Homo sapiens: one gene and its partner. The protein of the gene in region 2 interacts with the protein of the main gene of each other region in a biochemical or structural test. Each region holds a gene or a part of one and is shown on either strand. Other genes may lie near its edges.

Evidence for each region. Proteins that work in one complex are often made in the same cells at the same time.
Region 1: the proteins of UBE2D3 (region 2) and SIAH1 form a complex in vitro, tested with the Homo sapiens proteins (3 studies listed by BioGRID).

What each region holds. Positions count from the first base shown.
Region 1 is NC_000016.10:48,361,414-48,364,913, forward strand, and holds part of SIAH1 (E3 ubiquitin-protein ligase SIAH1), read right to left. Parts: intron 1,591-3,500; exon of another isoform or gene 1,018-1,590; coding exon of another isoform or gene 1,016-1,017; coding exon 167-1,015; coding exon of another isoform or gene 64-166; 3' UTR 1-63. Other genes in the region: LONP2 (lon protease homolog 2, peroxisomal), read left to right, coding at 64-183. UniProt on the Homo sapiens protein: E3 ubiquitin-protein ligase that mediates ubiquitination and subsequent proteasomal degradation of target proteins.
Region 2 is NC_000004.12:102,807,052-102,810,551, forward strand, and holds part of UBE2D3 (ubiquitin-conjugating enzyme E2 D3), read right to left. Parts: intron 2,805-3,500; coding exon 2,741-2,804; intron 2,653-2,740; coding exon 2,621-2,652; intron 1-2,620. UniProt on the Homo sapiens protein: Accepts ubiquitin from the E1 complex and catalyzes its covalent attachment to other proteins. In vitro catalyzes 'Lys-11'-, as well as 'Lys-48'-linked polyubiquitination.

The DNA.
Region 1 (3,500 bases), on a different chromosome or scaffold from region 2:
TACTACATGCAACTGTTTCCTGTATTTAACAGCCTTTCTTTTTATTTACCTTCATGTGTCTAGCTTCCACCTACCGAAAGAGTTTTAGGTTGGCAGACAGATGGGTGCCTTATTTTCTGTGAAACTGAAGTTTTAAACACTGGCCAGAAAATGTTTGATTGCCATTTCAACACATGGAAATAGTTACATTGATGCCTAAATTGCCATTTTCTGCAAAAAGCTGTGCAATGCTGGTGTCAAAGACTAGACAGTCGCTATTCATAATGGCTGTTGCAATTCCTTCATGAATAGATCGAGGAGTCGCTTCCCAAGTCAATCGTCGCCTATGACCATTTAGCTCAAGTCGGTAAGCAAAATTTTCAGCTTGCTTGCGTGTTCCTATCAGCTGTACGATTGCGAAGAACTGCTGGTGACCATCGTATTTTTCCTGTTTCTCTAAGACTAACATGAAGTGAAAGCCAAAACAGGACTGCATCATCACCCAGTCAACAGCACCAGGAAGATTAATGTCTGTAGCAAGAAAAACTATATCCTCTCCCTGTAGGGTTGTAATGGACTTATGCTGATGCATCAGATGGGGCATTACAGCATCCAGAGAGCCTTGCCATTTACAGGAAGCACCAGGGCACGGACAGGAATAAGGCCTAAACTCACAGAGCTCTTCATGGTCTGCTTTTTCTGTGTGTGGCAGAGTTATTTCACATCCAGAAGACGCATATTTACAGGGGAAAAGTACTGAATTAGCCACTTTCTCCATAGCCAAGTTGCGAATGGATCCCAAAGGGCCCCGGCAAGTTGGACAACATGTGAGCTTTGGGCGACAGTTGCTACAAACAAGATGGCCACTCTGACATTGAAGAATGGGCGGTAACACATAGTCAAAGCAGACTGGACACTCAAAAAGACTCGCCAAGTCATTGTTGGATGCAGTTGTGCCAGTCAGGGCAGGCACCCTCTGGGATGGTGGACACTTCGAGGTACCGGTAGGTAATGCTGTAGCAGTCTGACGGCTCATTTCTGAAATAAATACATAAGGAGGCAGGAGAAAAATAATTATAACCATGACTTACTTTATAAATAATGTTTACATGCCATAAGTCCTTTTAAAGTTTCATACAAAATTTACTGAGCAAAAGAGGAAGAAAAATAGGATTAAAAAAGATATTAAAAAAATAAAATTACACTGAATGTGCACTTTATTAGGATCTGTACACTGGATAAGCTCTCTTTTCAAAATGTTCCGGAAAACATGTGGAACTCCCTTAATCGTCTTTGGATAGACTACATAGAATAATAAATGCTAAAATAGAAAATGGACCATAAACAACTAAAGAAACTATACAAGGAACTGAAGTTTAATCGAATCCGTTTTGCTAGGACTCTCCCTGAGGCTCCCTTACTCTATTTCTTTCTAATTTGGAGTCAGCTGTTGATAGGTACAGGGAGTTACAGGTGAACTCCTGTATAAAATCGGCACTCTGTATCCACACGGTCTGCATCCGAGGACTTCACCAGCCATGGATTGAAAATATTCAGAAAAATTTATAAAGAATACAAAATTTTTAAAATACAGTCTATAACAACTATTTACATATTGTTTACATTGTATTAAGTAATCCAGAGATCACTTAAATTATACAAGAGAATATGCACATACAAATATGACACCATTTTCTATCAGGGACTTGAGCATCCTCAGGTTTTGGTATGGAGAAGGGGGTCCTAGAACTAATCCGAGGATACCGCGGATTGAATGTAGTTCCAATGCCAAAGAATCAGAGTATCACCTTCCATTAACTCTTCTTAATGGTAAGCAATTATCTACTCTAGAGGTGTATTTTGGAAATGAGGGGAAGGGTCACAAGGGGAAAGGTCTGCTGCCATCCCATTATCCATCTCTATCTAATTAAGTCTTCCCCCCAAATTATCACCAGCCAGGTATTAATCTTATTTCCTACTGATCAGTGCCCACCTCAAGAGTGAGGGGATGTACTCGCTAGTGAAGGTGGCGAAAATATAAAAATAAATAAAAACACAACTAAGGTGAAGTGAGGCATGGGAGAAATGGAGGGCCATCTCAAAACTTTTTAGTCTGGTAGAGAAAGTATATCTTTCTGTTCTACTTTCAATCCACAATATGTGTCAGACATAATGAACAAAGGAGGACAGTCAGGAAGAGACAATGAAAAAGGAAAGAATAAAGATGATAGCACGGCAGAGATATATGCCATACTGGGGGTGGGGGATGGAGTCAACAGGTGAAGAACCCCTTGCAGCCTAGGGTTCTCCAGCGTTGCTGAAAACATTCATCAGCAGAGTAATAAACATTATTTAACAGGTAAATATCATCTGGAAGAAATAATCGACAATGTAACTAGCCAGGCTGAGTCAAAGATAAAACAAGCAACTTTTCCCAGGAAGCTACCTGGGCTGGAAAATGGCAGGCCACTATTTGTCTTGGGGGTGAAAAAAAAGATCAGTCAATGTCCTAAGACTGCACTCCTAGTAACTCTACTAAGCCATAATCTTTTTTTTTTTTTTTTTTTTTTTTTTTTGAGATGGAGTTTTGCTCGTTGCCCAGGCTGGAGTGCAATGGCGCGATCTCGGCTCACTGCAACCTCTGCCTCCCAGGTTCAAGCAATTCTCCTGCCTCAGCCTCCCAAGTAGCTGGGATTACAGGGGCCCGCCACCATGCCCGACTAATTTTTGTATTTTTAGTAGAGACGGGGTTTCACCATGGCTGGTCTCGAACTCCTGACCTCGTGATCCACCCGCCTCGGCCTCCCAAAGTGCTGGGATTACAGGCATGAGCCACTGCGCCCGGCCACTAATCCATATTACAAAATTAAAGCCTCAAAATTAATGTTTTATCTCAATTATAGTCATTCTGTTGCAAGGAACTTTTAAGAAGCAATGTTGGTTACCAATGTGACCAAATAAATGCAACTTAGGTTTAGATTACCCAAGTGGTTACCAACTGATAGCTTAAATGAGGGCTGAGGGTGACGGAAAAAATAAAGATTAATTCCACGTCACTAAACGGGTATTTTAAAGTTCCAGAGGCAACAAAAGTGACAATTCCATCGTAATGTGTCTCATCATATGGACTCAGAACATGAATCAACTCTCAATCTGAAGCCCAGTGTGACCCAGGTATTCTGTCCCCTGACAAAGGACTATAAGGGAGCTCTCCTGTAATCCAGTTTCCCTCTCAGTAGATTCTTTGTACATATGACATCCATTTTATGTCACTTGTAAAACAGTGGGCTCAGCATTGCCAAAACACCCTGGCTGTATGCTGTATGCCTACTGCATGGTCCAGTTTACTTCAGTAAGCAGCGTAACAATTACAAAGTGGTTCCTTGGGCAAAAAACAGTCTAGTCAACCAATGCCTTTCAAATTACTAAATCAAACCAAAGAATCACATCCAAGGGCAGTAAACTCAGTTTATATTTAACACAATATAGCTACGGACCAAGCAAAACACTGTTGTTCACAA
Region 2 (3,500 bases):
AAACTCAAAATTAGATGGTATATTCCCTACAGTCAGGAATCTTCAGTTCTGTGGCACTGGCACCACTTTAAGGGACCTAAGTAGTAGTCCAAAGCAAAAGTGACGTTGTTAACTGTCCAGTTCTCCCACTAAATCTGTAATTTATGGGTTGCTTTAGGTCACAACTGCTTGCTACATAGAGCAACCATACTCACAAAATAAGCTACTATTTATCTTATACAGTGATGCTTTGTCACAAAGAAGTATTGAGAAGCCAAAAGAACAAAATGAGTTGTTTCATTGGTGCACTCCACAGTAAGCATATAGTTAACTATTTAAAGCTGGCATCTAAATTATGTGCTTACTTATGTACAAGACAATACCCGTACTTTGGGTGGATTTTTATAATCTTTGACTCCTTCTTGAAATTTACCCAACCAACAGTGAGAACTAACCTTTTTAACTGAAAACATATTTCAGTGAGTACTGCTACCAAAGCAAAACCCAGCAGTTGTGGTTAATCAGGTTAATATTTAAATGGTTCTGAAAATCACATGCTTCTGTTTGTAAAAGCAGAAAACTGCTAGTCATTATATTAAAAGGTTGCTGAAAAAGTTCAGCAAGGAATAGCCATCACCTGAAATATATATTTAAAAAATGAAAAAAGGTAAATGTTTTCTCAAAATAACAGCAAATTAAGTAAACTGCTAAAAAATCTGTCAGAATAAGCAACACCATTCTCTAAAAAAATTACTACCATACACTCATCATTCATGTTTCCTTTTGATTGTCTATAGGTATGTTCCTTGCCTTTTGGGAAAAACTAGTGTGTTGTTCAAAATAACAAAGTCTAAACTGTCAAGCAGAAAAACCAACTAGTTTTAAAGAGTTAGTTTATTCTGCACACCATCCAATTAGAAGTTTTAATTACCAACGCTTCTGTGCTTTCTTAGTATTGACAATTTTTATAATGAAACTATCAACTACCCTCTGAATCAAAGATGAGCTTTATTTTAAGGCATTTTATAGCATTCTTTGAAAACTGGTAATCCAAAATGGGAAAATTCTAGAGGTTGCAAAAGCAACTGCTTTACAAAACACTAGGCAGATAATATGGAATTGACCTAGTAGGCACTGTGGTAAACACATATCCCATCTAAAAAAGGGAGGCAGCTGTCATTCCATCCCAAGCCATTACTGCTTATGGAATGTGGGCCTACTCAGAAGGCTTTTATTTGAAGACTGCCAACTTTCAAAAATATCGTGTGGGCCAAACTGGGTAACTCAACATTTAACTGCGTGTATTAAAATTAAACAATATTGCTACCAAATTAGATAAAAGTAAGTACTTTTAATAACTACAAAGCCAGGATTGTGCATTTCGTTATTACAGGACTATTTTTACTGTTTTAAATGTTACTTTGTTTTAAAATGATCCAGGACGTTTCAAAGTATTAAACTTAATATTTGCACCCCTGCCATGTCTTACTTTGATTTAGTTTTTCTACCTTTAGGGCACTAACATTTTAATTACTCTAAATTAATCCTCCCTGCTTCAATTTCCCATTAATTTATCCTACTCAGCACTTCATTCACCAATCACTTATTTTCCATCTTGTCACACTTCAGCACTTGTTTTAGGTATCTGTCTCCTCTAATACAGTGTAAGTTCCCTATAAGATCGACAGGGATGTTTATTATGTTCAATTTGTATCCTTATTACCTGGCACACAGTATGTACTCACATTTGAGACAGAAAAATGACTAAAGTTAGAATCAGAATTACTAAATAAATACTTGTTGATTCGACTCATCTACTAACTCTAAGAGCATTTTTTCCTTTAGAATTCTAAATATTACTTACTGACCATTATCTCACCTAGTACATTATTGCTCTTTATGTTGCTTATAAAACCACCAAAAAGGGAAGACAGTTTTCAGGAAGATACACATGTAACTTAGAAAACAAATCCTTAAGCGCCTTAGCAAGTTAAAAAAAAAAAAAAAGTTAAATATTTGTGTAAGATACAGTCTTACCCCAGGATGTTTTAGTGCGCTCTAATTCTCTGAAATTCTTAGATGGTATCCATAATTCTGAATATTCAATTATCCAGCATATAGTTGCTTATCTACCCAGGATAGAAAGGAATTTTGCTATATTCAAAATATCACTTTCTGCCTAAATATATTCAAATTTTGCATAAACTGAAGTTCTATAAAGAATCAAATATCAAAATACAATTAAGCTAGATTATTGGCAGCTGCAGTAACAGAATAAGATCTCTGAGTAACACAACGCATGGCATATCAGAGCCAGTAACTTTGTCTCTATAAATAACAGGAAGTTCCATGACAATGCTTTACACAGTGCTATGTAGAAAAACTGAACTGAGATACAGAGATGTTTGGTAGGTCATAGAGATGGCTATACTCTAGAACGTGAACACAGGGATAGACACAAAGTACACGTAACAAATGACTAACTCATTATGTTTTTTCTTTCAAATGCAGTACAACTATGGAATATCCAAAATAGAATTAACTATATGATAAAATAAACCTACAGACCAAGTTAAAAATTACAACCAAATCAATGCTGGATTTTCACTTAAAACTAAATTTAAAAATTCTTAATACTTACAGGTCCCATAATTGTGGCTTGCCAATGAAACACTAGAAAAAGAAAAAAAACTCTGGTTATCTAAAAATGCACAAGCTTAAAAAAAAATTAGGCATAAAAATCAACTTGCAAGTTACTTACTATCATCCCCAACTGGACCTGCAGAACATTGTGCTGGAGGGTCACGGGCCAAATCACTAAGTTCCTACACCAAGACAGAAAATGGGTGAGTCACATAAGCTTAATTTAAGAAAACAAGCAAATGAGTCCACTGCTTTCAGTTACTTTCACCCTATTTTTAAAGGCACACTCCATCACAATTCACATAAATAATATATTCCATTAGGAGAGAGAACATGCCTGAACATATGCTGAGACAATCATCTTAGCTAGAGTTCGTAAAAATATATATGCAAACACATTGATACAAAATTTTTTATTTACATAAAAGCCAATCTCTTACAAACCGAAATAGCTATAATTAGATATTCTCATAGTTTAAGAGCTTAGACCAGAGAGAGCTCAACATTCACGTTATTTGTTGAACTTCCAAGACCACTTTCAGAGGCCCTCAACTGTCTTAAATTCTTTGTTCTTCCTGAACCATCCTTCCTCCCCAATCCACTAACTCTATTTTCTACCTGAAAACAAACCAAAAAAACTCTCATGGGGCTAAGTACCTTTTTTGTTTTCTAATCTCCTTATTCTCTCAACTCAACCTTTTTTTTTTTTTTTAAACTCAGCATCCATTTTTAACTATTGAAATTTTTTTTTTTTTTGAGACGGAGTCTCCAGGCTGCAGTGCAGTGGCGCAATCTGGGGTCACTGCAAGCTCCACCTCCCAGGTTCACGCCATTCTCCTGCCTCAGGTGCCCGCCACCATGCCAGGCTAATTTTTTGT